Linked DNA regions of Homo sapiens. The protein of the gene in region 1 interacts with the protein of each later gene in a biochemical or structural test. Each region holds a gene or a part of one and is shown on either strand. Other genes may lie near its edges. The genes, in order: MID1, STK36, PTPA and PPM1A.

The links.
Region 2: of the proteins of MID1 (region 1) and STK36, one has a biochemical effect on the other in vitro, tested with the Homo sapiens proteins (one study listed by BioGRID).
Region 3: of the proteins of MID1 (region 1) and PTPA, one has a biochemical effect on the other in vitro, tested with the Homo sapiens proteins (one study listed by BioGRID).
Region 4: the proteins of MID1 (region 1) and PPM1A form a complex in vitro, tested with the Homo sapiens proteins (one study listed by BioGRID).

Annotation. Positions count from the first base shown.
Region 1 is NC_000023.11:10,449,586-10,456,612, forward strand, and holds part of MID1 (E3 ubiquitin-protein ligase Midline-1), read right to left. Parts: intron 5,493-7,027; coding exon 5,285-5,492; intron 132-5,284; coding exon 1-131. UniProt on the Homo sapiens protein: Has E3 ubiquitin ligase activity towards IGBP1, promoting its monoubiquitination, which results in deprotection of the catalytic subunit of protein phosphatase PP2A, and its subsequent degradation by polyubiquitination.
Region 2 is NC_000002.12:218,696,069-218,703,095, forward strand, and holds the end of STK36 (serine/threonine-protein kinase 36), read left to right. Parts: intron 1-458; coding exon 459-533; coding exon of another isoform or gene 534-566; exon of another isoform or gene 567-929; intron 930-970; coding exon 971-1,145; intron 1,146-1,394; coding exon 1,395-1,542; intron 1,543-1,785; coding exon 1,786-1,933; intron 1,934-2,533; coding exon 2,534-3,280; intron 3,281-5,797; coding exon 5,798-5,941; 3' UTR 5,942-6,647; downstream 6,648-7,027.
Region 3 is NC_000009.12:129,114,415-129,121,441, reverse strand, and holds part of PTPA (serine/threonine-protein phosphatase 2A activator), read right to left. Parts: intron 930-7,027; coding exon 832-929; intron 1-831. UniProt on the Homo sapiens protein: PPIases accelerate the folding of proteins. It catalyzes the cis-trans isomerization of proline imidic peptide bonds in oligopeptides. Acts as a regulatory subunit for serine/threonine-protein phosphatase 2A (PP2A).
Region 4 is NC_000014.9:60,287,212-60,294,238, reverse strand, and holds part of PPM1A (protein phosphatase 1A), read right to left. Parts: exon of another isoform or gene 5,684-7,027; intron 4,434-5,683; coding exon 4,325-4,433; intron 2,843-4,324; coding exon 2,785-2,842; intron 1,787-2,784; coding exon 1,757-1,786; 3' UTR 1-1,756. UniProt on the Homo sapiens protein: Enzyme with a broad specificity. Negatively regulates TGF-beta signaling through dephosphorylating SMAD2 and SMAD3, resulting in their dissociation from SMAD4, nuclear export of the SMADs and termination of the TGF-beta-mediated signaling.

The DNA.
Region 1 (7,027 bases):
CAATGGGGATTTCCTTGCTATTGTGTCTCACCACCCAGTTATTGTTGCAGCGGCAGAGCGCCCAGGAAGCAGAGTTCTTCCCAATCCATTCATGCTTCGGGGCTGATTTGTAAGCAAGACCAATGGCATACCTGCGGAAACAAAACAGCAACAACAAAAACAATGAGCCATGTTGCACATGCACGTTAAATCCGTTCTGTGGTCCTCAGGGGTTATAAAAACATGATCATTTGTTGTCCCTGTTCATTTTCTTTAAGTGAAAGCTTGGCAAGAACCCCAACATCTGTGTTCCTCATCTCCTTCCCTCCCAAACATGGAAAGTGGGTGGAAAGTAGTGGGTGGAAAGAAGCGTCGTATTTACCCACATTTCTGTTTTCAGCTCAAACACTACGGAGAATTTGAACTTTGAGTTTTGCTGCTTTTTTTCACTCTTATAAAAATCTACACAATGAATTCGCTAGACCAGTGCTGACCAAAAGAACTTTCTTCAATGACTGAAATGTTCTGCTCTCCTCGATATGGTAACCACAAGCCACATATGGCTACTGGGCACTTTAGCTGCGGCTGGTGAGACTGAGGAACTGAACTTTAAATTTATTTAATTTTCATTAAGTTAAATGATTTAAATAGCTGCCTGTGGCTCATAGCTACCATACTGGACAGCACAACCCTAGACTTCTCCTTTTGACCTTCTTATAATTTTTCATTTAACACCATGTCTGTCATTTTCTGATTCTGAATGCACTTTGCCAAGGGCAAGCACAGAAGATGATTCCCATTTGCAGGGATAAATCCTTTGTCATTACTCAGCCCCAATTTTCTCATGTATATTGAGAAATATACAGTGTTATTTTAAGGAGTAAAGGAGAGAATACATGTTAAGTCCCAGGCACAGGACCTGGCATGTAATATTCAGTAACTGCTATTTATTTTATTATTATTGCCTGATGGCACATATTAACAATAAGTACCAGAATCAGAATTTGAACTCAGGATGACTCAAAACCCACAAACACGAACTACATTCTACAATGCCATCCGTAACCAGAAATTGTGCAGTTCATCACTGCCAAGAGCCTTTCTGATTATACTGGAAAAAAAATTCTGAACGTGTTTGAGCAGACGGATCTTCTGGTTATTCTAAATGTTCTCTTGCTGCTCAAAAAAATCCAAAGAATGCTTTCTACAATGTTCTAAGCATCTTAATCTCTTTTTACCCCTCTGAGTCATGCCTCTGTAATATTCATCGTATTTCAGTTATTAAGATAAACAAAACCCATCACTCTTTATAAAGAGTAAATGACTCACAGTTGAACTTTTAATATGTTATAGCAGAAACCAGTCTAATTGGATATTAACATATGGTACCTTACCCAATGCAGAGAGAAAAATTTCATGGGTCTTTAATAAAATGACATTCTTTAAAAAAAATCACACTGGACTTAAAATACAATCACTTTAAGAGTGGTGTGTTTGTTTAAAAAGAAAATTAACACAACATGCCATCACTAAATCCAAAAGAAGGATGGAATTGATAATCTGCCAAGCCCAGTGTGCAGGCCTGTCTGTCATCAATGTTGCATCCTCTCTTCCCTCCCGTCCATCCTCTCCTGCTTATGAGGAGAATCCAAGTTGCATTTCCCAGAATCCCCTTTCCTGTAGGAGTCTGGGTCAGGCTCTGCTATTGTGATGCCTTTGCACAAGATCCAGAAGTGCTTAGAGGAGGGGAAACACGCTTTCCTGATGGCAGACAGTAGACGTGCGGTTGGTGGAAGCTTCTAGATGAGCGCCTGAGTACACCTGCCTTGTGCTGTGGGCAACTTTGCAGCAGCTACAGCTCATCATGACTCCATGAACTAGAGCAGCAGACTCCCTGACTTCATGCCCCAGCCCTTCCAGGGTCCTGTAAGCTTCTGGCTCCCTTCTGTGGCATGCATCGAGGGTCTCAAATGTCATCTGTTTATTTGATACACTGATATGGTTTGGCTGTGTCCCCACCCAAATCTCATCTTGAATTCCCACATGTTGTGGGAGGGACCCGGTGGAAGGAAATTGAATCATGGGGGCAGGTCCTTTCAGTGTTGTTCTCGTGATAGTGAATAAGTCTCATGAGATCTGATGGTTTTAAAACGGGGGAGTTTCCCTGCACAAGCTCTCTTTTTGCCTGCTGCCATCCATGTAAGACGGGACTTGTTCCTCCTTGCCTTCTGCCATGATTGTGGGCTTTCCCAGCCACATAGAACTGTAAGTAAGTAAGTCCATTATAAACCTCTTTTGCAAATTGCCTGGTCTTGGTTATGTCTTTACCAGCAGCATGAAAACAGACTAATACATACATTTTGGAAAGGTTTTCATTTTGCAATTGTCAGTATCTCCCACCCCCCAAAAATGTTCTGTATACCCCAGTGAATACTATTTCCGCTTTTCAGACAATTTGGAACCTGCATCACAAAATCACCACATCTGTATTGTTTCCTTCTTGTTGTGGCACAGCATTTTTATTTTTTATTACTTTGATGTTTATTTCCCATTTGAACCTTAACTGAACCCTATGAAATAGCTGTGGCAGGTATGGCTGACTACATGTAGCAAGTAGAAACAGAAGATTAAAATTGGGAGCAAAATCCAGAGTTGTATGCTGCCCCCACCCCTTCTGGTCTAATAATCTTTGCATGAACCCGTTATTACTCATTTAGTTAACACCATTTCATAAAACACCAAGTGCACATTAGCATTAGAGAGTAAGAAAATACTAAGTGTATAGTCCATTAAGCAAAGGAAAATACCATTATAGTATCATTAATCTGTGAAACTAGGTACATATTTCCATTGAGCTTGAAATGTGCAGGCAGAATGTAATGTTCCATTAAGTTACGCAGTGAGACACGGAGAATTCAAAGTATAAAAATTATGTCTCTCGGAGCAATGTTAACGTGCCCCATTGCACAGATCATAATGTACACATCAATTTAAAGTCAGGACTATATTTCATAAGCAAATATGTCATTAGCTGTTGCAAGTCAAGATGTCACAGGCATTTAATCGTAGGGGGTGCCCCTTCCTTGCTAATACCCCCCAAGGAAATGTAAAGTGACTTTCTACATGAAGATTTTTCTGAAATTGACACCGTCAGGTTTGTAAAGATTAATTGTGTAGCAATTAATTTTAGAATTTCTTTTCCCCCTCATGAGTTAGTTTTGACATCTGGAGGGTGTTTTCAAGGTAATGCTGATGTGTGTTTATATAACTGAAGTGGTCTGATGGAATTTTGCAAACTATTCATCAATGGCAATGAGATCATAATGATCAGGTTTCATTTATCATAATTAATTATTAATAGAGTAATAATCATTTAGACCCTGGATTCTATCCCAGATTAATACAGCACATTAATTAACTAGAAACATTTGCTTTTTTTGTACCTGCATCCATTGTGTTTTCCTTTGTGCTTTAATTTTGCCCCACTGCAGCTAAAAATTGCAAATGCCAATCTAGCCCAGAGCCTAGTGGGGTGAAGGATTTGTCCTCCATCCTCTGGCAGGATGTTGGAACAGAAAACTCTTCTAGGCAAAGAGAATTATGAGGATAGCAACAAAGGAAAACCTACTCGCTCAGCCAATATAGTATGTACCATTATTGGGAGAGATGGGAAGCTTACAATTCACTTCTTAGATTTTTGGCTAATTTCTACCTACAATATAAAGGACTCAGCCATGTCACATTATTTGCATAGGTTTGAATTGAAAGGTTTTTTTATATATAAATAAGTGTTTTATCATGCTTATATTGAAAGAAACACTGTTATACTCACCATCTTCAGGCTATGCAATTTTGAATGTTGATTTTATTTTTTAAAGCAAGGATTCAGCTATCACTCATTACGTACACTGTCATAAACCCTAGAGAGTAATTATAGCATTTCAAAAATATACCACCCTTTTGTGAATAGCAGCATACCATGGTGGTTAAGAGCGGGGAACAGCAAACTACTACCCAGGGGCCAACTCTGGCCCTCTGCCTGTTTTTATAAATGAAGTTTTATTGGAACGCAGCCATGTCCATTTGTGTAGGTGTTGTCTGTGGCTGCTTTCCCACTACAACAGAAGAGTCGAGTATTAGTGACAAAAATCATTTGGCATGCAAAACCAGAAATATTGAATCTCTGGCCCTTTACAGATAATGTTTGTGGACTGCTGGTTAAGAGCCTGACCCTTGACTGCAGACTTACTGACTCTGCCACCTGTGAGCTTTGTAACCCTGTGATCTTCAGCATATACCTCAGTCACCTCATCAGTAAAGTGGATAATATTAGCACCTACCTTTGTAGGGCTGTAAGGCTGAATAAATGAGTTGACATCTGTAAAATGCTTAGACCAGTGCCTGGCACATACTTGTACCATATGAGGGCTTGTTAAATAAAAATAAAATAGCTCCCTTTTTGATCAATAGCAAGCAGGCATTTGTGAGACAGACGGTCAAAGGGGTGCAGTTGTGGCTGTGGATTAGGCAAGGTTAACTTTGTGAGGTTAACTAATTCCAATGTAATTGTGTCCTGACCTTTGCCCTTATTCTTAGAGAACTCAGTGGGCTAAAGTCACTGGGCTGGATCTAACAGGCCTTTTGAAATTATTCCCAGCCTATGATCACTGCTTCACCCCCACCATTCAACCCTTAGCTATTTGCACTAATTGGTCCAGTCTAGAACCATAAAACATACAAGGCAACAGAAATTAGTTTTGTGTAATGATGAAGAGTGATGTTTAAAAGTAGGGAATGGCAAACTTTTTCTGGAAAGGACCAGAAAGTAAGTAAATATTTTTGGCTTCGTAGACCATATGATTCTCTCTTAACTACTCGATTCTGCTGTTGTGGCTGAAAGGCAGCCATGGACTATATGTAAAAAAATGGACCTGGCTGTATTCCCATAAAACTTTATTTACAAAACCAGGTAGCAGGCCAGGTTTGGCTCATGGGCTGTGGTTTGCCAACCCATGTTTCATGGCATGAAAGAGCAGTGTTAACATGGTATAGCTCATCCAATGATCAGAGCTCTATAATCTTGAACAGAGAACCCACAGGTGTGGGTATTAGTAATATATGGTTGTTGTTTGAATCTGCTGAGTTTGGGGGTGTTTGTTATGCAGTATTATCCTAGCAAGAGCTGACTAATACAACTTTTCTGCATTTTATTCTTTAAGATGCATTACAGTATGGGTTGACTCTCTAAGTACAGAATGAGATGTGCCTTTTTATAACTGCAGGACAATAGAAATAAGTTGCTTACCATGTGCTTCCACTTATGACCACTTCCCAATAATGCCGGCCACTATCAATAAACACATTTCCAGCTACTCCATAGCTCCCCTGGCTGGTGAAGCGTTCAGGTGTGTGACTCTTCTTGGATGATGACTCATCACGTTCTACTGTCAAGTTATCATGGGACACCTTCAGTTTTCGATGAGCAGATTTGGGATCCAGTTTAAATGGTTGGCCTGAAAACAAATTCACAAAACAGAAAAAGGAAGAGGAAGAGGATTGTTTATTTTATCATAACCAATAGCATATTTTCAAAATCAGGTTTAAAAGACAGGAACAAGCCAGCCCTCCCTGAGTCATGCCTCCTATCACAAAGTGGTATCTTATATTTTAATAGTAATTTAAACATTATAAGCAACTTTCAAAGACATTTGCTTGCAAAGTTTTCATAATATTCAAAAGACAATAGAGAGCAGCAACTCTGTGTATAGTACAGTACACAGTAAGAGTGAAAAAGAACATGTTCCTGTCTTCATAAGCTTTCAGTCTACCAGTTCTAAGATAGGGATCCAGTGGTGGCATGCCAACTATTCAACAACAGCATGGATAAGGCTTAGCCAGAAAACATAGGGTGAGCTAGCTTCACGGATTCCAGGTGTATACAAGCAGCACAGGTACATACTGGCTGGATAGCATCCTGAAAAGGAGGAATGAATGAAGACTCCATTTTCAACCACTGCAGTGTTCTATCCAGCATAAGATGCATTCATGCTCAATAGACTTCAGACCAGAAACCAAACAAATCAAGATCTTGGGTCTTAACATATAGAATATTCTAGAGGTTTATATTATTCTGAGATTATTAAAAATTAAAGCATTACTCTTAGGAATTTAGGATGAGAATACAATTTTCAGGCCACAAAATTAGGAAAAAATGTGATAGCAATGCCTGGGTTTTCTACTCATGAAATTATTTATATATAATAAGGCCTTCTCTATTTCATTACTCACATTTGTGTCTTAAAGATTTAAGTATTAAAAAAATCTTGGCAGAGTCACACCTGGACATTTTGTCATAGTTGTTACTTCTTCTTTGACAATTCAATATTGGTTTGGAGTACTGCCTGTCATTCAACACTGCATTGGGTACAAGGCGTTTAAAGGCAGGAAATGCATTGCAACCTGATACAAATGCCATGGTGTCCAAACTCCACAGTCACTGTTGCAGTTGGCAGGTTCCTTCTGCCCAGTATACAGCTCTCAATCACAGGAAAAGGTCTAGTAAATTCAACTGTGGCAATACACGATGCTGGGCGAGAAACTGACCCAGTGAGTATAGGACAGTGTGTGTTGTCACATGTGGGTAGGCCAAAGGATTTCCAGTTGCCTTTTGGATACAAACACAACACAACACCAGCACCTCTAAAATCCTTTCTTTTTAGGTCACGGACCAGCATACTTTTTCTGCAAAGGGCCTGACAGTAAATATTTTTGGCTATGCAGGCCAGGCCATGTGGTCTCTTTTGTGACTATTCAACTCTTCTGCTATAGTGAGGGGGCAGCCACGGACAGGACAATAGGTAAATGAATGGGTGTGGCTATATGCTAATAAAACTTTATTTACAAAATCAGGCAGCCAGATTTGGCCCTTGAGCTATAGTTAGCTGGCTTTTGTTTTAGAAATCTATTTCTGTACATATCAAAGAAAAGCTTAGGCTGGGCTGGTGGCTCATGCCTGTAATGCCTGCACTTTGAGAGGCCAAGGCAGCTC
Region 2 (7,027 bases), on another chromosome or scaffold:
GGCCAGGCTGGTCTGGAACTCCTGACTTCCTGATCCCCCCGCCTCAGCCTCCCAAAGTGCTGGGATTACAGGCGTGAGCTACCTCAGTGGCTGAATTCTTTATAATTTATAAAACATTTTCACATGTTATCCCACAACACACTTGAAATATAGACACACCAATGTAATAATACTCATCTGCTTTTTCTAGACTAAGTTAGCCTTCAGAGAGGTTGTATCACTAGTGATAGCACTAACACTCATCCAGAAGTCTAAGTCAGAACTTTGGGAGTCATCAGTGACTGTTCTCTCTTCCCCATTATTCCCCCACCGAAATGGTTCCCCCAGGCCCCATATATTCTACCTTCCGGTTGACTCTCAAATCTGTTCCCTCCATGGCACCATCACTGACCTGCCTTGGTTTAACGGACACCCCATTCCTCTTAGGCACCTGCATTCTTCATGTTTCTCTCTGACAGGTTCGGTTGACTCCACCAGGTAGTTGTGGATTCTATGATGGCCTCCTTATCCTTCTGTTGCAGCTCCTCACTGAGGTACAGATGGATCTTGGGATGGATGGGAAGTAAAGAGAGAGGAACTGGGCATTTTGGGGAGCCTCTGGACCAGAGGAATGAAGAAGCAACCCACAGCCTTCCCTCTCAAGCTACTGTGCCTGTGATAGCCTTGGAACTTCCCCGCCTGCCCTCAGTACTGACCCTTTGAAGGAAACCATTCGCTGCGTCCCCTGGGATCCAGTGGGAGATAAAATGAATTCCCTGGGTTTCAGCAGACATACACATGAGTTGTGAGGTCAGAGGGTTAAGGTTTGATAAGAAAATGAAATAAGACGACAGGGAAATACTAGGTGGGAAAGCGGAAGGAATTATTTCTGGGACTTCCTTTACTTGTAAGTCAGGGACAGGAATGAATAAAAGCATTTGGATTCCTGACTTCTGTCTTTCCCCCCGCCCTCTTTCACTTTTATCTCTAGCAGGGGAAGGCTAGCCTAATCAGGGATATGTCCAGTTCAGAAATGTGGACCGTTTTGTGGCACCGCTTCTCCATGGTCCTGAGGCTCCCCGAGGAGGCATCTGCACAGGAAGGGGAGCTTTCGCTATCCAGTCCACCAAGCCCTGAGCCAGACTGGACACTGATTTCTCCCCAGGGTATCTTTCTATCAGTATCCTTTTTGGGAGTGCATTGATCTCTCTTCAAGAGGAGGCAGCCCAGAACTGGGTTAACCCACAGAGGTTTATTTTTTTTGCTTTTGCCTGGGGACAGGAAGCAGTGTCTGCACTAGAGCTGCTCTAAGATGGGGAAGGGACTGAATAGGTGTAGCCCTGGGAGCTGTGGGGAAGCAGGGGTATCTGGGCGTCTTGCCTGTTCCATTGGGTCTCCATTTTTGGTGTTACCAGGCATGGCAGCCCTGCTGAGCCTGGCCATGGCCACCTTTACCCAGGAGCCCCAGTTATGCCTGAGCTGCCTGTCCCAGCATGGAAGTATCCTCATGTCCATCCTGAAGCATCTGCTTTGCCCCAGCTTCCTGAATCAACTGCGCCAGGCGTGAGTTTGAGCTAGAAGAGAGCCACAGAGTCAGCAACGGGGAGGGAGAAAGAAGAAGGCAGGAAAGAAGTTACTGACAGATTGAGCTATAAAGCAAGAAAGATGAGATCAGGTTTAGGCTGGAAACCTAAGTAGTGGCTGAGACTGTAGAAGGGGAGTTGGGCAAAGGAATTGGAGGAGGGAGGGAGGAATGATAAAGGTTAAGTGAACAAGACCAAGTCTCTTCGACATTCCTCTCCTTAGGCCTCATGGGTCTGAGTTTCTCCCTGTCGTGGTGCTCTCTGTCTGCCAGCTCCTTTGCTTCCCCTTTGCGCTGGACATGGATGCTGACCTCCTTATAGGTGTCTTGGCCGACCTCAGGGACTCAGAAGTTGCAGCCCATCTGCTGCAGGTACTTGGGCAGCTAGCATGAAGGTGGGAGAGGAAGATAGCCAACCTTGTATCCTCTAATTTACTTCCCAGCAGCTCCAGGGCTCTTCTAGGCCCCTGTAAGCATGGAACAGCTGGCTTGACTCAAAAGTTGGCGTGGAGACAGTACTCAGACCTGCGCATGTGGTGGAGGCATGTGGTGGGAGCTGGGTTGGTGCCTCCTCCTCTCCATCAGTCCATCACCTGGTTCTGTTGGTGCTCATTGGGGAGAACATCCTAGTCTAGGCACTGAAGACTCACCTCCTTGGCCAGGAATCATGTTTCTGGCAATTCTTGGCATTGCACAGTGGGTCTTTGTTCTTTTGTTGTTTCTTTTTGTTTTTTCACAGTGGGTCTTTGAAGGCAGAGACTGAGCCCTTGCAAAGTAAGGAATGATCTTGGAAAGAACCTGCTCTCTCAGGCTCCACGTTGTGTCTCATGTGGAGTGCTGTGGGGCAGGACTTCCAGCTCTCTGTGGCATTTCTCACCATAGCTTGGCTTTTCTCTCTCCCAGGTTTTGGGCTTCTTTATAGCTGCATATACTCTCTCTCTCCCTGAATCCTTTTACCTCCTGTTCTCTCAGGTCTGCTGCTACCATCTTCCGTTGATGCAAGTGGAGCTGCCCATCAGCCTTCTCACACGCCTGGCCCTCATGGATCCCACCTCTCTCAACCAGTTTGTGAACACAGTGTCTGCCTCCCCTAGAACCATCGTCTCGTTTCTCTCAGTTGCCCTCCTGAGTGACCAGCCACTGTTGACCTCCGACCTTCTCTCTCTGCTGGCCCATACTGCCAGGGTCCTGTCTCCCAGCCACTTGTCCTTTATCCAAGAGCTTCTGGCTGGCTCTGATGAATCCTATCGGCCCCTGCGCAGCCTCCTGGGCCACCCAGAGAATTCTGTGCGGGCACACACTTATAGGCTCCTGGGACACTTGCTCCAACACAGCATGGCCCTGCGTGGGGCACTGCAGAGCCAGTCTGGACTGCTCAGCCTTCTGCTGCTTGGGCTTGGAGACAAGGATCCTGTTGTGCGGTGCAGTGCCAGCTTTGCTGTGGGCAATGCAGCCTACCAGGCTGGTCCTCTGGGACCTGCCCTGGCAGCTGCAGTGCCCAGTATGACCCAGCTGCTTGGAGATCCTCAGGCTGGTATCCGGCGCAATGTTGCATCAGCTCTGGGCAACTTGGGACCTGAAGGTTTGGGAGAGGAGCTGTTACAGTGCGAAGTACCCCAGCGGCTCCTAGAAATGGCATGTGGAGACCCCCAGCCAAATGTGAAGGAGGCTGCCCTCATTGCCCTCCGGAGCCTGCAACAGGAGCCTGGCATCCATCAGGTATACCCTACAGCACTTATGAACCATGATGATCAGGGCCCCTATAGTTGACAACATTTCTCTGAGATCATCTGTAAGGAATTGGAATCGGGACATGGAGAAACTTATGCCGTGTTTCTCCCAGGGACAGTGTCTTGGAGTGAGTTTTCTAGTTACATCTCCTGCCTTGGAGGAGGGAAGGGAGCTAGAAGAGGGCTCCAATGGGCTGGGAAATGTCTGAGATCTCAAGGACCACAGTTGATCTCTTCTAGAGGCTGTGCAGGAGGGAGATGAGGGAAGACTAAGAGATGCTGAGATAGAGTAGTTTTACTCTGTGTGCCATGAAGGTGCTGACTATTTTTTTTTTAGACTTACCATGAGAAAAGCACGATGCTAAGCATTTTACCTTTATTATCTGGTTTAAACTATTATTATCCTAATTTTGCAGATGAGGAAACTGAGGCACAAATAATTTAATAACTTGTCCAAATTACAAGGACAGTATGTAGGATTGGGCTTTTGAACTCAGAAGTCTGAGTCCAGAGCCCGTACTCTTAACCACTACTTTATCCTTCCTCTTCTGCGCAACTTTCTTTTTCCTTTTTTTTTTTTCTGAGACAGAGTTTCACTCGTACTGCCCAGGCCGGAGTGCATGGCATGATCTCGGCTCACCACAACTTCTGCCTCCCGGGTTCAAGCAGTTCTCCTGCCTTAGCCTCCCGAGTAGCTGCATTATAGGCATGTGCCACCACGCCTGGCTAATTTTGTATTTTTAGTAGAGACAGGTTTCTCCATGTTGGTCAGGCTGGTCTCGAACTCCCAACCTCAGGTGATCCACCTGCCTTGGCCTCCCAGAGTGCTGGGATTATAGGCGTGAGCCACTCTTTTTTTTTTTGAGACTGAATATCACTCGTTGCCCAGGCCAGAATACAGTGGCGCAATCTCAGCTCACTGTAACCTCTGCCTCCAGGTTCAGCCAATTCTTGTGCCTCAGCCTCCTGAGTAGCCGGGACTATAGGTGCCTGTCACCATGCCCGGCTAATCTTTGTATTTTTATTATTTATTTATTTATTTATTTACTTATTTATTTTTAAGATGGAGTCTCGCTCTGTTGCCCAGGCTGGAGTACAATGGCACAATGTTGGCTCACTGCAACCTCTGCCTCCCAGGTTCAAGTGATTCTCCTGTCTCAGCCTCCCAAGTAGCTGGGATTACAGGCACACACCACCTTACCTGGCTAATTTTGCATTTTTAGTGGAGACAAGGTTTCACCATGTTGGCCAGGCTGGTCTTGAACTCCTGACCTCAAGTGATCCACCCGCCTCAGCCTCCCAAAGTGTTGGGAATACAGGTGTGAGCCACCCTGCCTGACCGCGATTTTCAGTATATAAAGAGTCCAGTAGGCCAGGCTCTGTGGCTCTTGCCTGTAATCCCAGCACTTTGGGAGACTGAGGTGGGCGGATCACTTGAGGTCAGGAGTTTGAGACCAGCCTGGCCAACATAGTGAAACCCTGTCTCTACTAAAAATACAAAAATTAGCTGGGTGTGGTGGCAGGCGCCTGTAATCCCAGCTTCTCGGGAGGCTAAGGCAAGAGAATCCCTTGAACCTGGGAGGAGGAGGTTGCAGTGAGCGGAGATCATGCCTCTGCATTCCAGCCTGGGTGACATAGCGAGACTCTGTCTCAAAAAAAAAAAAAAGCCCATTGGAAATCACAGATATCTACATATGGTAATATAAATTATGACATCTCAAAGTGGTAGCATTGGGAAGTTCATGCAGAGCAGAAATTTGAGAGGATGGTGAAGATCTTTTTTTTTTTTTTGAGACGGAGTCTCACTTTGTCGCCCCCAGGCTGGAGTGCAGTGGCGCGATCTTGGCTCACTGCAAGCTCTGCCTCCCGGGTTCACGCCATTCTGCCTCAGCCTCCCGAGTAGCTGGGACTACAGGCACCTGCCGCCACACCCAGCTAATTTTTTGTATTTTTTTTTTTTTTAGTAGAGACGGGGTTTCACCGTGATAGCCAGGATGGTCTCGATGTCCTGACCTCGTGACCCGCCCGCCTTGGCCTCCCAAAGTACGGGATTACAGGCATGAGCCACCTTGCCTGGCCGATGGTGAAGATCCTATAGGAATCTTGTGCAATCCATGGGGAAAATAATTAATGGGATTCTTGGTGGTAATGAGGTTAGAACTCACTGGTCTGCATTGAAGGCTAGGAATTAGACCTTTTGGCTTACTGTGAGTTACTGCTGCATTCATCAAGTCTTCCTGGGGACAAGTATATGTGTCCCTTAGTGCCTTGGTTTCATGGTCTATAACCAAAGAGAATGGAAGTAGACTTCTGGTCCTGATGATTCCTATCTCCAAGGTTTCTCTTCTGCCATTCAGTCTATTCCAAGTCCCCAAGAGCCCATTTCCTTTTTCTTCCTCTTCTCGAGTGGGAATTCCTGGGTAAATGAGAGTCCTCCGCACCTGCCCCAGACACCACCATTTCTGAGCCTCATGTTCTGTTCTATCATCTGTTCTCTATCCTACAGGTACTGGTGTCCCTGGGTGCCAGTGAGAAACTATCCTTGCTCTCTCTGGGGAATCAGTCACTGCCACACAGCAGTCCTAGGCCTGCCTCTGCCAAACACTGCAGGAAACTCATTCACCTCCTGAGGCCAGCCCATAGCATGTGATTCCAGATTCCTGCGGTCCAGCCTCCAACTTTGGTTGCCAGCTCTTTCTTATTCTACTACACAAGCCGCCAACTCAACTGAGAGCTAAAGAGACTAGAAAAGAGATAAGCTGCCAACTCAACTGAGAACAAGAAACTAGAAGAGATTTATATATAAAGCTTCTTCCTTCTCCCAGATGCAGGATGTTTTCAACCAGTAAATTTTATTGCTGTTGGTGCCAGAGAAGAGTCCTTTCTTCTCTACATCCAGGGGCCTTTTCTCCAATAATGTGCCTTTAACTCTAGGGACCTGCCTCACGGACCTTAGGGAAAAACCTCAACCTGAAAGATCTCTTCCTTTCTGGAGCTCCTTTAATCTTCCCAGCAGGTTTTTGCCTTAGACGTGCTGGCCCCAGGACAGTGATGAAGACAGAGCCTGTCTCAGCTCTAGGCTGTGGGGATCAATGCCATCAGTCCCTGTTATTGAGGGATTATCCCTTAGCCAACATTCCTATCTGTGGGTGGGCGTGGAGAGTGTATCTTTTTTTGGGGTGTGTGTGTATATGTGTGTGTGTATGTGTGTGTGTGTTTAATAGTTCTGTTTGTAAACTCTTTTAATAAAAGTTGTGCCTCACCATACTTGAAGCTCCCAGGACAAGGGTTGAGAGGCTCAACCCCTCTTTCAGCTTCTATGTGGTGTTGGAGGTGCTGGTATCGTGTTCACACAAGATCCTGGTCTGGCAGCTTATTTATATCATTTCTTGCCTTTACCAATTTCCCCCTTCCTAGATGAACTATATTTGGTTACCTACTTTCAAGTCAAGGCCGGTGGAGCTGAAATAGGAAAGGGTAAGATTCAACAGAGCGGTCAATTAGGTTGCTCAGACTTAGTGACTAATTTTAATATTTAGTGGAGTTCTAATGTGTAGGGACTCCAAGCTGCTGTAGAAGGATAGCTATTTTAAAGATTGTACAATTTACCAGAAAGGGCTTTTAGTCAGACCTGTTAGAATTATAATCTAACTGGAAGCATTGGAAAACCTTAACTCATTGGATGGCTTAGAACAAGCTTCCAGGGCCTTGATTTCTCCATCCATAAAATGAGGAG
Region 3 (7,027 bases), on another chromosome or scaffold:
AAAAGACATGATAACTATTTCCAAATACTGAGAGGGCAGGCTTGTGAAAAAGGAATCAGACAGGTTTAGATGGCCCCAAGCCCCAGTGAGGACAAGGCATAGAAGCTGTAGGGTGTGGGTCTCCTGGAGAATCTGCCCAGCATGCAAGGACCCCTGTGCCCAGCCTTCTGCATGAGCAACACTCTCCAGCCCAGCTCACCAGGCCGGGAGCAGGAGCCTGACGAGAACTGGGCCAGAGGCCTTCCCTGAGAAATTGAAATTGGCTTTCTTTTGCTCAGTCTGTCTTTCCACAGCCTGTACCACAAGCCTGAGAGGTACAAGTAGTTATCTTCTGCCCATCATTTCAGCTGAGCAGCAGAGAAAGCCAGTCTGTGCCCAGTGCTCTGGGTCCCAGCTCCCAGGTATTTGCAGGCTTAGCCATATCCCTGGCCAAAGTTTCCATGAGATAGCCTCTTCTCCCCTTGAGGCACTGGCTGCCACACTTGCTGTTACTTGCAGCCAAGAATCAAAGTGACTCGCTCCATCATTTCAAACACTCATGTTCAGCCAATACAGCAACACTCAAGGGGCAATGGCTTAAGAGAACCAGGAGCGGAACTCTCCCGGGCTACCCTGGCAGCAGCCTGAAAAAGTAGGCAACCTTCCTGATAAAGCATCTCTGAGTACTGCCTCTGAAGGGAAGAGACAGCCAGCTCCCCTGTCACCTTTCTCCCTAGCTTCTGAAAAGTCAGGCTCCAAGAGCAAGAAGGGCCAGGAACTCACCGCCCGTCATGCTAGGAAAACCACTGTCTTTGAAAAGCCCAAGTTTCTCACCACAGTTCCAAATGGTACCTGAGAACGCTTCCATTTGCCCATGTCTGGAACTGTGTGGATCTCCTTTTTTGGAATGATGAAGTTCTGAGTGGCTGGAGGGGCCTCCTCTGAAGAATCTTGACAAAAAAAAATGAAAAAACAAACAGATAAATAGAATCCTCCCCTACAACACACACACTCCCTTTCACCTTTTTTTTTTTTCTTGAGACGGAGTTTTGCTCTTGTTGCCCAGGCTGGAGTCCAGTGACACGATCTTGGCTCAATGCAACCTCCACCTCCAGGGTTCAAGCGATTCTCCTGCCTCAGTCTCCTGAGTAGCTGAGATTACAGGCACGTGCCACCACACCCAGCTAATTTTTTTTTTTTTCTTTGAGACAGAGTCTCGCTCTGTCGCCCAGGCTGGAGTGCAGTGGCGCGATCTCAGCTCACTGCAACCTCTGCCTCCCGGGTTCAAGCGATTCTCCTGCCTCAGTGTTCTGAGTAGCTGGGATTACAGACGTATGTCACCATGCCTAGCTAATTTTTGCATTTTTAGTAGAGACGGGGTTTCACCATGTTGGCCAGGCTGATCGCAAACTCCTGACCTCAGGTGATCCACCCGCCTTGGCCTCCAAAGTGTTGGGATTACAGGTATGAGCCAAAGCGCCCGGCCTCTCTCTCACTTTTAAACCAGGACTCCAACACCTGAGCCTTAGAATAAACCAGACACATACTTCCAGGACAGAGTAAGGGCTTGTTAAGCCAAACCCACAGCCTCCTGCCCTCCCTCACTCTGGGGAGGAAAGAGAAGGGCAATACTGACAATCCCTTCAATAACCATGCCCTCCCTTCCCTCTCCCCCCCAGAGCAGAACCGTTAGAAAAATAAAACCAAGTTGATGTTTCAGACATACACAGGCAATTCACAGAAGAAAAAAAAACAGGTCAGGTGCGGTGGCTCACGCCTGTAATCCCAGCACTTTGGGAGGCCAAGGCAGGCAGATCACAAGGTAAGGAGATCGAGACCATCCTGGCTAACATGGTGAAATCCCATCTCTACTAAAAAAGTACAAAAAAATTAGCCAGGCGTGGTGGCGGGCGCCTGCGGTCCCAGCTACTTGGGAGGCTGAGGCAGAAGAATGGCGTGAACCTGGGAGGCGGAGCTTGTGGTGAGCCGAGATTGCACCACTGCACTCCAACCCAGGCAACAGAGCGAGACTTCGTCTCAAAAAAAAAAAAAAAACCTAATTGCAGTAAACATTTGGAATAAATTGCCAACCTCCTGAATAAGCACGGACACGTAAATTATATGTGATTTCTCTTTCTGGATAAGGTTGGCAAATTAAAAACATCTGGCTAGGTGTGGTGGCTCATACCTAATCCCAGCAATTTGGGAGGCCAAGGCAGGCAGATCACTTGAGGCCAGGGGTTCAAGACCAGGCTGGCCAACTTGGCAAAACGCCATCTTTACAAAAAAAATTTAAAAATTAGCTGGGTGTGGTTGCATACCTGTAGTCCCAGCTACTTGGGAGGCTGAAGCAGGAGGATCACCTGAGTCCAGGAGGTGGGGGTTGCAGTGAGCTGAGATCATACCACTGCACTCCAGCCTGGACAACAGAACGAGACTCTGTCTCAATAAAAACAAAACAAGATTCCAGGAAGAGGAAACAAGAATTCTCCCGCTCTGTGGGTGGGAAGGACCTCCTAAGGGGACAATCTTTTGGAATAAAAAACTGCATATACACAATGAGTCAACAGGTCTACTTACAGGAATCTATCTTTCAGATGTGCTCACGGAAACACAAAGGTGTTTAATGCATCAAAAAAAAAAAAAAAAGCTGGGCATAGTGGCTCACACCTGTAATCTCAGCACTTTGGGAGCCCCAGGTGGGAGGATCACTTGAGTCCAGGAGTTTGACACCAACCTGGGCAACACAGCGAGACCCCATCTCTACTTTAAAAAAAAAAAAATTTTAGGCGGGGCGCGGTGGCTCATGCCTACAATCCCAGCACTTTGGGAGGCCAAAGTGGGTGGATCACACCTGAGGTCAGGAGTTGGAGATGCGCCTGACCAACATAGTGAAACCCCATTTCTACTAAAAATATAAAATTATTCAGGTGTGGTGGCGCATGCCTATAATCCCAGCTACTTGGGAGGCTGAGGAAGGAGAATTGCTTGAACCAGGAGGCAGAGGTTGCAGTGAGCCAAGATCGTGCCATCGCACTCCAGCCTAGGCAACAAGAGTGAAACTCTGACTCAAATAAAAAAATTTTTTATTAATTAGAAACAACCCAAATAGGCTGGGCGTGGTGGCTCACACCTGTAATCCCAGCACTTTGGGAGGCCAAGACAGGCAGATCACGAGATCAGGAGTTCGAAACCAGCCTGGCCAACAAGGTGAAACCCCATCTCTACTAAAAATACAAAAATTAGCCAAGTGTGGTGGCGCACACCTGTAATCCTAGCTACTCAGGAGGCTGAGGCAGGAGAATTGCCTGAACCCAGGAGGCAGAGGTTACAGTGAGCTGAGATCGTGCCATTGCGCTCCAGCTCTGGTTGACAGAGCAAGACTCCATCTCGGGGGAAAAAAAAAAAAAAGAAACAACTCAAATATCAGTTGATAAGACAATGGGTAAATAATGATATGCCCAGGTCCGGCATGGTGACTCACACCTGTAATCCCAGAACTTTGGGAGGCTGAGGTAGGTGGATCATTTGAGGTCAGGAGTTCCAGACCAGGCCTGGGAAACATATTGAAACCCCATCTCTACTAAAAAATACAAAAATTAGCCTGACATGACGGCACACACCTGTAATCCCAGCTACTTGGGAGGCTGAAGCAGGAGAATCGCTTGAACTGGGGAGGCAGAGCTTGCAGTGAGCTGGACCGTTCCACTGCACTCCAGCCTGGGTGACAGAGTGAGACTGTCTTAAAAAAAAAAAGAGGCTGGGTGTGGTGGCTCACACCTGTAATCCCAACACTTTGGGAATCCGAGGCGGGTGGATCACTTGAGGCCAGGAGTTCAAGACCAGCCTGGCCAACATAGCGAAATTCCACCTCTACTAAAAATACAAAAAATTAGCCAGGCATGGTGGCGCACACCTGTAATCCCAGCTACTCGGGAGGCTGAGGCAGAAGAACCGCTTGAACCCAGGAGGCAGAGGTTGCAGTGAGCCAAGATCACGCCACTGCACTCCAGCCTGGGCAACACAGCAAGACTCCGTCTCAAATTTAAAAAAGAGAAAAAAAAGATAGGCCCACATAATAAAAATTTTCATAGCTTATAAAATGAATAAAATCTAGGCCAGGCACAGTGCCTCCCGCCTATAATCCCAAAACTTCGGGAGGCCGAGGCAGGCAGATTGCTTGAGTCCAGGAGTTTGAAACCAGCCTGGACCACATGGCCAAACCCCATCTCTACAAAAAATACAAAAATTAGCCAGGTGTAGTGGTGCACACCTGTAGTCCTAGCTATTCGGGGGCTGAGGCGGGAGGATCACTTGAGCCCAGGAGGCTGAGGCTGAAGTGAGCTGCACTCCAGCCTGGGTGACAGAGCAAGACCCTGTCTTGAAAACAAAAAAAAATTAGAAACAACCCAAATATCAGTTGATAAGATGATGTGTAATTAATTATATGCCCACATAATGGAAATTTTCATAACTTGTAGAAAGAAGAAAATCTAGACCAGGCACAGTGGCTAACACTTGTAATCCCAGCACTTTGGGAGGCCCAGGCGGCAGGATCGCTTGAGCCCAGGAATTCAAGACCAGCCCAGGCAACACAGGGAGACCCCCATCTCTACAAACAATTTAAAAATTAGCCAGGTGAAGTGGCTCATGTCCGTAATCCCAGCACTTTGGTAGGCAGAGGTGGGCAGATCACCTGGGCTCAGGAGTTCAAGACCAGCCTGGTCAACATGGCGAAACCCTGTCTCTACTAAAAATAACAAAAATTAGCCGGGTGTGGCCGGGCACAGTGGCTCACGCCTGTAATCCCAGCACTTTGGGAGGCCGAGGCGGGCGGATCACAAGGTCAGGAGATCGAGACCATCCTGGCTAACACGGTGAAACCCCGTCTCTACTAAAAATACAAAAAATTAGCCGGGCATGGTGGCGGGTGCTTTAGTCCCAGCTACTTGGGAGGCTGAGGCAGGAGAATGGCGAGAACATGGAACTCGGAGCTTGCAGTGAGCCAAGATCGTGCCACTGCACTCCAGCCTGGTCAACAGAGCGAGACTCCGTCTCAAAAAAAAAAAAAAAAAAAAGAAACCCTGTCTCTACTAAAAATACAAAAAAAATTAGCTGGGCGAGGTGACGCATGCCTGTAATCCCAGCTACTTGGGAGGCTGAGGTGAGAGAATGGCGTGAACCCAGGAGGCAGAGCTTGCAGTGAGCCGAGATCGCGCCACTGCACTCCAGCCTGGGCAACAGAGCGAGACTCCGCCTCAAATAAAAAATAAATTAGTCAGGCGTGGTGGCGAGTGCCTGTAATCCCAGCTACTCAGGAGGCTGAGGCAGGCAGAATCGCTTGAACCCAGGAGGCAGAGGTTGCAGTGAGCCGAGGTCGCGCCACTGCACTCCAGACCAGGCGACAGAGCGAGACTCGTCTCAAAAAAAAAAAATTAGCCGGGCATGGTAGCGCACACCTGTAGTCCCAGCTACTCGCGAAGCTGAGGCAGAAGAATCACTTGAACCCAGGAGGCAGTTGGCCAGGCGCGGTGGCTCAGGCCTGTAATCGCAGCACTTTGGGAGACGGAGGCTGGTGGATCACCTGAGGTCAGGAGTTTGAGACCAAGCCTGGCCAACATGGTGAAGCCCCATATCTACTAAAAATACAAAAAAATTAGCCAGGCGTGGTGGTGGGCACCTGTAATCCCAGCTACTCGGGAGGCTGAGGCAGGAGAATCACTTGAACCCAGGAGGCAGAGGTTACAGTGAGCCAAGATCACGCCACTGTACTCCAGCCTGGGCAACAAGAGTGAAACTCCATCTCAAAAAAAAAAAAAATGCAAACTCTCCCTAAAGTGGAAGAGTAAAGGACTATCATCAATCACTCACAACCTGGTATAAATTTGTCCCCCTGCCTTCCTCCTAAAACCTGGCTGACATCAGCTACATGGAGAAAAAGGGACAGGGACCTAAGAAGTTTCTGGAACATATAACATTTGGAGAAATAGAGCCTGTCTGGAGAGGAACTGAAGAAAAGAAAAGTGCCAGGGGACTTGGAGACCTAAGGAGAAGGATAGAGAACCTGAGTTTAGAGAAAGACAAATCTCTGCCTAACTCAAACCAAGGCCCCAGAAAGAGATCAGAAGCTCTCTTCCTCCTCCCACCTGTCCTGCAAGCTCTGTTCCCAGAACCCAAAACTGCTATTAGTAAATTGGCACTTCAACTAAGATGCCAAATAAAAAGCTTTGTAGGTCAGACTAGTAACCCAACCACATTGCTTTTATGGGAAAATGTGTCCCACATTCCAAATAATCAACTTGGAAATAATCTTTGGGAACATACAGCCCTTTTATATGTGTGAGATCACCATTCTCTGCAAAGGGACAGCTCTCCTCGGAGGTTGCACTGAGCCAAGATCATGCTACTGCACTCCAGCCTGGGTGACAGAGTGAGACTCTGTCTCAAAAAATAAAAATAAAAAAAGGGATGGCACTCCTGACATTATTTAACCGGGATATTTCACAGGAAGAGAGCCTTCAGGCCAGTCCATGTTTGGGAAAAGGCTACCTTACCAGGAAGCACTATAACAAATTACTGATGAAACACACACAAGTTGCCAGAACACACAATCCCAAATCAAAGAAACAAGCCTTCAAAGGCAGGATGGTGATAAATGAGGTCACGCCCACAGTCTCTCCAGCCTCAGGTTATAGAGACATAGGTTCCAAGGGACAGTGGATTCCCAACAACCTCACAGTATAAAATCAACATTCAGAATTTTAGAAATGTTCCTTCCTAAGCCCCCCAACAAAGACTATAATATATAGCATTATCATTGGCCATTTGAAACTCGTCTACATGTTCAACCTGTACAACTTTGAAACTTTGAAAAAGATAAGGGCAATCAGCATTTACTGATCGCCTACTATGTCCCATGCTTTGCACACATCTTATAAAACACATACTACAATTCTATGAAGAAAGTATAGTAGCCTATAGTTATTTTAAGAAATAACTGAGGCTTTTTCTCAGGGAAAAAAAAAGAAATTTTAAAAAAGAGAGAAGT
Region 4 (7,027 bases), on another chromosome or scaffold:
AGATTTTGCTGGTATTTAACTACTTAAATCTGAGACATTTCACATTACTTTCCCCACTACTCCCCTAACTTTACATTAATTTTAAGGCTATATATACAAATATGTATATTTCCAAGTTAGGGAAAAAACAAATATAACAAAATGGACTATACTGGTTTTTATACACAAAATTTTGATTTTGTATTCAATGTTGTATTTTAGTCTTACATTTCAACAGTTTTCTAGTGGGAATCTGCCTACTGAATGATTACATGGTGATAAATACAATATTCAACCTAAAGAGACAAAAATACAGAAGGGCACGGAACAGTAATCTTTTCAATGCGACAGATTTTAAAACTTACTTTCACATGCTTAATCAGAGGAATTTAAGCCTAAATTAAATTAGGTTATTTTTATATCTACAATTCCTTAAGCTTTGAAAGTTATTTGTAAAGGCCAACAGCTAAATATTATCAACATGCTATATTTCAAATCACAAATACATCTTAACCACTTGGATTCTAAAGACATGGGCCAATTAAAAATCACAGGCAAACACACACTCACAAACACACACACACACACCCCTACCATAGAGTGTTAGATTGTCAAACTTTGACAATAAATATTTTAATTAAACAGTAGGCAAATCCAAGCTGATACACATCTTAATGAAAAATAAGCAGCCTGAAAGAAACCTATTTAAAAAATAGATTAAGGTACAACCAAGAATTAAATCTTTTAGTCTTTCTAATGGAAGGAAAGTTTCATCTATGCCTTGAGTGACAGTGTTGTCCAATTAAAAGAGACTAACATCTTTCCCTATGAGAAACGTCTCATTACAACGGCACAGTGTTTTAAAAGGCCAGGGTAAAAGAGGAATTACACATACATGATTAAGTTTCTTGTTTGTTAAATCAAGCTTTATTGATAAAATGGAATTCAGAATATCTTACTAGGAACAGCAGCAGGCCCAGCCAATCATGATAGCAAAAATGTGGCAGTTTCCTACTATATGTAGGAAGCTGCTGCTTATCAATTAGTAATTAAATGTAAGGACTTGAAAAGAGGTGCAAAGAAACAAGGCATTTAGCCCCAAGATTGAGATTCTTATGAATACACTGTATTATTACCTGCAATACTCATGGAAACAACGAAGGAACATCCTGAAAGACAGTTAAATGAAGGGACTGGCTTTATCAACAATGCCAACTCCCCTACCAAGAACATTTAAGATAGTTTTCAATAACTCCTTGGATGTTCAGCTTTGTAAGATTTTGAGGTTATTTTCCATAATCATCTGCACATTTGAGCGTGTAGCTGACATGGCTGCTGCTCTCCCTGTTCCAACCCCAAGTCCAAACACAACATGACTTGAAAGGGCTATATATCTGTTGCATCACACAATAAGCCAAACATTTCTTGTAACTTTGATAGTGATTTAAAGCAGTTCATAATTAAATATGAGCATTTTGTACAAGGACAATTACACTTTACAAAAAAACAAAATCATACAACAAAAATTGCTGGAGTCTGATTTACAACACGAATTATGGTTTGAAATCACGCTTACATAAGTCTCAAATTTACAAAAAAAAAAAAAAAAATCAGTTCTGGGCTAGCTGTTGTACTGCTGAAGTTCTCTGATGTAATCATTCTCACCCATGTCATATCCCCTTCCTTAAAGTTGAGGATGGATGTTAAAAGTTTCAACAAAGTTGAGCTGTACTCTCCTTTGGAGGTGAAGGTAAACTCCATGGCTAGATGAGCAGTTTTACCACATATCATCTGTTGATGTAGAGTCCTTTGTAAAAGGAAGCAAAATAAGGAACAACGTTAAAATTTAGCGGTGCCAAAATACACCATACTTTCTGGATAATGGAGAAAGATAATGTTCTGTAAAGATGACTTTTAGAATATAAATGTTTTTTAAAGTATATAAGTATATATGTGTACATATGAAATAGCAATGTTTAATCTGTTCAAAGAATTGTTAATCCTTTGTTTTGTTTTGGAAAATATTTGAAATGCGGTTTTATGATGAGGCTGTCCAAATGTATTACTCAATCAATAAATCTACTAAAAAGAATTTTTTAATGAAATCCAATACAGTTTTAGAATACCACTTTTATAAACCTTTAATGCATCAGAAAAGATTAAGAACTCAATATGTGAGGAAGCTTCATAATGCAATACATAAAATATTTCAGAGCTGTGCCCACATGATCTTTAAGTTATCACTTTTCTATAAACATCATACAACAGAATTGCAACAGAACACTTAACTGGAGAGTATGGCATTCTAATGTCTATTTATGCAAACAATTCTCTAATATTTAAGTGAAGTATATACTTCAGGATTCCTGACAAAGGTATTTCCAACCATAAGAACTATTTAGTTGAGACAGACATTCCGAAGTTCTGCTGCAGCTGCTTACAAAACTCAGAATAAGACAATATTCTGAGTAGAGATAGTCCCAACTTCGGGAAAAAAAAAAAAAAAAAACCATGTAGTGGAGGCAAACCTTCTGAAGTTGATTGTTTGTAAAGACTTAAAAAATCTAGAATAATTCAAAAGGACTTTCTTCTTTTTTGAGAGAGGTGGCCACTCACCATGATTATGTCCTCAATCACTAGAACTGTGGTGCAGGCAGAGATCAGAGCAAGCAGAGTTCAGAGCAATCAATCAGGGGTGTGTGTAAGAGAATGGGTACAGTGAACAGCTCTGCAAAAACAGGTAGGAAGGATATGCATTTAGAGTGGAGGGGAAGGGAAAGCAGAGGGAGCTAAAATGCTACTTACAGTGTCGTCATTTTTGTAAGGATTCAGTCTATTGTAAACGGCTTCAATAACATTCCTCCTAAGTGTAAAAAAATGCAGAAAATTAATTCTTCAGAAAGCAAAACATTGCTTAGTAACTCATAGCCAGGTGTTTATTAAAATTTCTAAGATAATCTTATACTCAGATATTATTTTAGTTCTATTTCTTGCTGTCAATAGTGAGCCTCACTTTTAAGATATTTGGGCTCCTATGTTAAAGCAGAGGTGAGTCTACTCTAAAATGTGTTATAACACTCTACCAACCCAGTTAATAGAAGGCTAAAAATTACAGATTAAAAAAAAAGTCTATATAGTCTACTTCCATTTGAATTGGTTTAAATGGTTATGAGTCATCAATGGCAATGCCATTCTTAAGATATAATACTAACATAAGCTAGTTGAGTTGCATCGTAGTTTTGAAGTCTCAGATTATACTTTATATTTAAGCTTCTACTTTTCTTAATGCCCTTTTCAAAAGTTCTATTAAAACTGAAATGTCAAATAAGACATTTCCATGACAAGTCTAGGAATTAGTTTTGAGTAACACTTTATTAAAAATCTGTAGTATATTTATAAGTTATAGTCTCCCTACTTCCAAAATTGACTTGAAGCAATTTTATAGATCGTTTCATAGAAAGTCATATGGAAAAAAAAAGTTTCCAAAAAATAAAAGCTTCAAACAGGAGCTTTTACAATCACTATTTAGTGATTACAAAGAACATGGTCACACTTGCAAAACACAGTAGAGAATCGAGAAAATTAGTCAATAATATATCTTCACTGTAAGTACAAGAAGTCTTCACTTGTAGTTTTAGCACATTTACTCTATATCCAAATTCAAGCTAAAGGTATTTGCAAGTTTTATGTTTGTAAGTCAATTATATGGATATTTGAGGTAAAAATGTTTTAACCCTTGGAATTGCTTGAATTTTCCACTTTATTATGTAAAGGTGTAAGCTTAATATTTAACACAAAGTAGTCCAATTCTATGAACTAAAGTGGAAAGGGAAAAGACAAGAAATATATTCTATCTTCTTCCCTGACACCTAAAACCAACTAACCAGCAATCAACAACCAAAAATACTGGGAAAATCAGGCATAGAAACATGGTCCATATGAGGAAGGGGAATTTTCAGGGTGTTAAGTTACTCAGGGATTGACCAAATCAAATTATACTACTACTAACAACGACACTTAGAATTTTGTAAATTTTTATGTAGTGCTATGTAATTTAGTTTAAAAAGTTCTTTCAGTATATTATCTCGTTTATGCTCTATGAGGAAATCAATGCCAACCAAGCTTCCAATAAAGACAACCCTCACTGCAATTAGTTACAATGATACTGATACCTATGTCTAAACAAACTCTAGATATTCTAATACTAAAAAAAAATTGAAATCACAGGTTAAAACACAGATAACTGCATCAGTTCAGAAATTAGGCAAACAAACATTTTATCAATGAATACCTAACATTTTCATACACTGACATAAAGCATAAGAGTGTACAGAATGTAACTTACTTGCTTGCCAATTCACCCCCTGGTGGGAGGCTGGGGATGTTCTCACTCGCTAATGTGCGCATCACATGGACTAAGTCGGGGACGCCTTCCCCCTGCTTCTTTATGATTTCTGGGAATCAGAAGTACTTTTTTTGTAAGTGTTATCCAAATTTAATTGAAAAGAAAACCGAAACAAAGATAACCTAGCTTTTTAAAGATGGCATTTACCACATCTGAGATTTTTCTAATCTGGTATCATTTAAAAAAAAAAAAAATCAGGTTGACCTTTGAAGATTTATGACAAAAAATGCACAAAATGACATATAAGATTAACTTCAAATCAAAATTAAAATGTGAAAAAATATTTCATGTTAAATCAGCATATTATATAATCAAGGATATGTGTGCACAAGTGAGAATACCCTTTCTTAAGATGTCAACTAGTTTCTTCTTACATCACTCCTCTCTTTAGACTGGAAACATGTTTCCTGAACTTTGCCCTATATAATACACTGCGTGGAATTTTAAAAAATAAACAATTTCAAGATTTGAAAATAACAACCCTTAATTATAGGGGAATTTATAGATTATATACTAACTCAATTATTTTTATGTATATATTTATATTTGCAAAATGATACTTAAATAGCATGCACAGATTATGTACTTGAACATCACTGTCTCAGTTTAATTCTTCTCTAAAGTACCTTTAAACAATATACTGTATAGATATATAATACCATTTCCTTCACTGATTACTTCAACAAAGCCTTGAATAGAAAAGGTCTAAATTTCCTTATAAAATGTTTAAAAAGAGAACCATTTGATAAACCATACAACTGCATTTAAAATAATTTTAAAATATCCAGTTATTAAAAGGGCACAGCAATATGATCTGCAGTGTTGTCATGCAGATGCATACTATTATTCACATCACAAAATATAAAAAATTATGAACAAAGAACCTTACAAAGAACTCTACAACTATTCCTCTAAGTATAAAAAGTCTTCACTTGCAGTTTTAGCACACATACTCCACATGCAAATTCAAGTCAAAAGTATTTGTAAGTTATATGGTCAAGTTTTGTTCAGTTTGTTTTTCAATGTTTATGGTAAGAAATGGTATTTTATTTGTCATTAGTGGGGCAAGAAATCATCATTCTGCTTCTCAATTTGTAAATACCTTTGAAAATAACAATGTGTATAAAGATTCGTCCTTTGATCAGGCCTCAAAATTTTTAAAGACATGGCTACCCATAATATTTCTTTAAATGGTTCAAACTGTCCTTTTAGAATAAAGGCCAAATTTTTACCATCTATTATTTTTTGCCTTAAAAAAAAAAACAGTCTTAAATCTGAACAAAAAGCAAGGATCTCAGATTTGGTTTGCCAAGTTCCTTTATTGTGTAATCTTTAACATCTAGTATATTTGTTCTACATGGTTCTAATGCTGGAAATCTGCTGTACAAAAATAAAGGGATTTGATGTTTACCTAAACTGCACAATTTCACAATCTAAAACTAATACACTTAACATACAGTCTCCGCTAAGCCAATACAATTATTTGGATAGATAACTAGATACAATAGAAATAAACACTGATGATAAATTGAATCAATAGTTTCAGGTCTAAAAAACATTACCTTGAATCATCTATATTTGATGTATCTTACATCTCTTTTGTTAAAATATAAATTAGGATATTTTAACTGTGAAGAAAATTACAGGAAAACAAATTCTTGTAAAAAAATAATGTAAAGCTTTAAAAACAGTTAATATCTCCTGTTCCACGTGGGACAACGCATTTAAACTACCTGACCATTCATACTATACTAGCCTTGCTTCTGTCTGCTTTCAAAAAAGAAAAATAAATGAATTTTAAGAAATATTCCTTTAATTTCTGTTGACCTATACGTTTTACTTAGAATTGTAAAAAGACTGAACGCTTTTTCTAAAGAATATTTATATATAGAAGATCCATGTTTCACATACATATACACAAACACATTCTGCTCCTTTCCACTCCCCTCCACCAAGTTTCAGGGATTCTATCAGTCATCTCCAAATTAGCAACTTTAAAGCTAAGGTAGTCAGTAGCAAAGATTTTGAAAATATATACACAAAAGTATAATTTTAAATTGGCTTAGAAGGACCACAAAATTAATAGTAGTATAAATTATGAGCTGAATCTTTTCACACCCCCAGAGAGTCAAGTATTTAGAAGGGAACAAATAAGAGAAAAGGAGAGCTGGAAGGCCTTTGTCCTTTTCTATGGTGTGGACAGAGAAGCCAAAAATGTTCCAAGCAAATAAAATGAGGTTTAGTAGGTCACAGCAATCTAGTGAAGGCATGTATTTAAAGAAAGAAGAGAGAGAGAAAAGAAAAAGGCATTCAGGTGCCTGCTTTGGAAGCTGAAGGCAGTATTTTTCACTGAGGACACACAACTTTTACAATACAAACAGTTACATTCTATGTTTTAAAATAGCAGCAATTTTAATGTAATATTTATTCTCTAGTTGCAGTCTCATCAAATCTGAGTAAAAAATACCATATTTAATTTATGACAATCTCCAATTGAATGGTACAAGTATAATAACACTTTAACATATCAAAAATATTGAGTATCAATGTAAACTCTGTCCAGGTGGCAACTCTTGCTTGATAATAAGAAATATAAAACTTATTATTGTAACAAAATAACGTAAAGTGAATATTTCATAATTC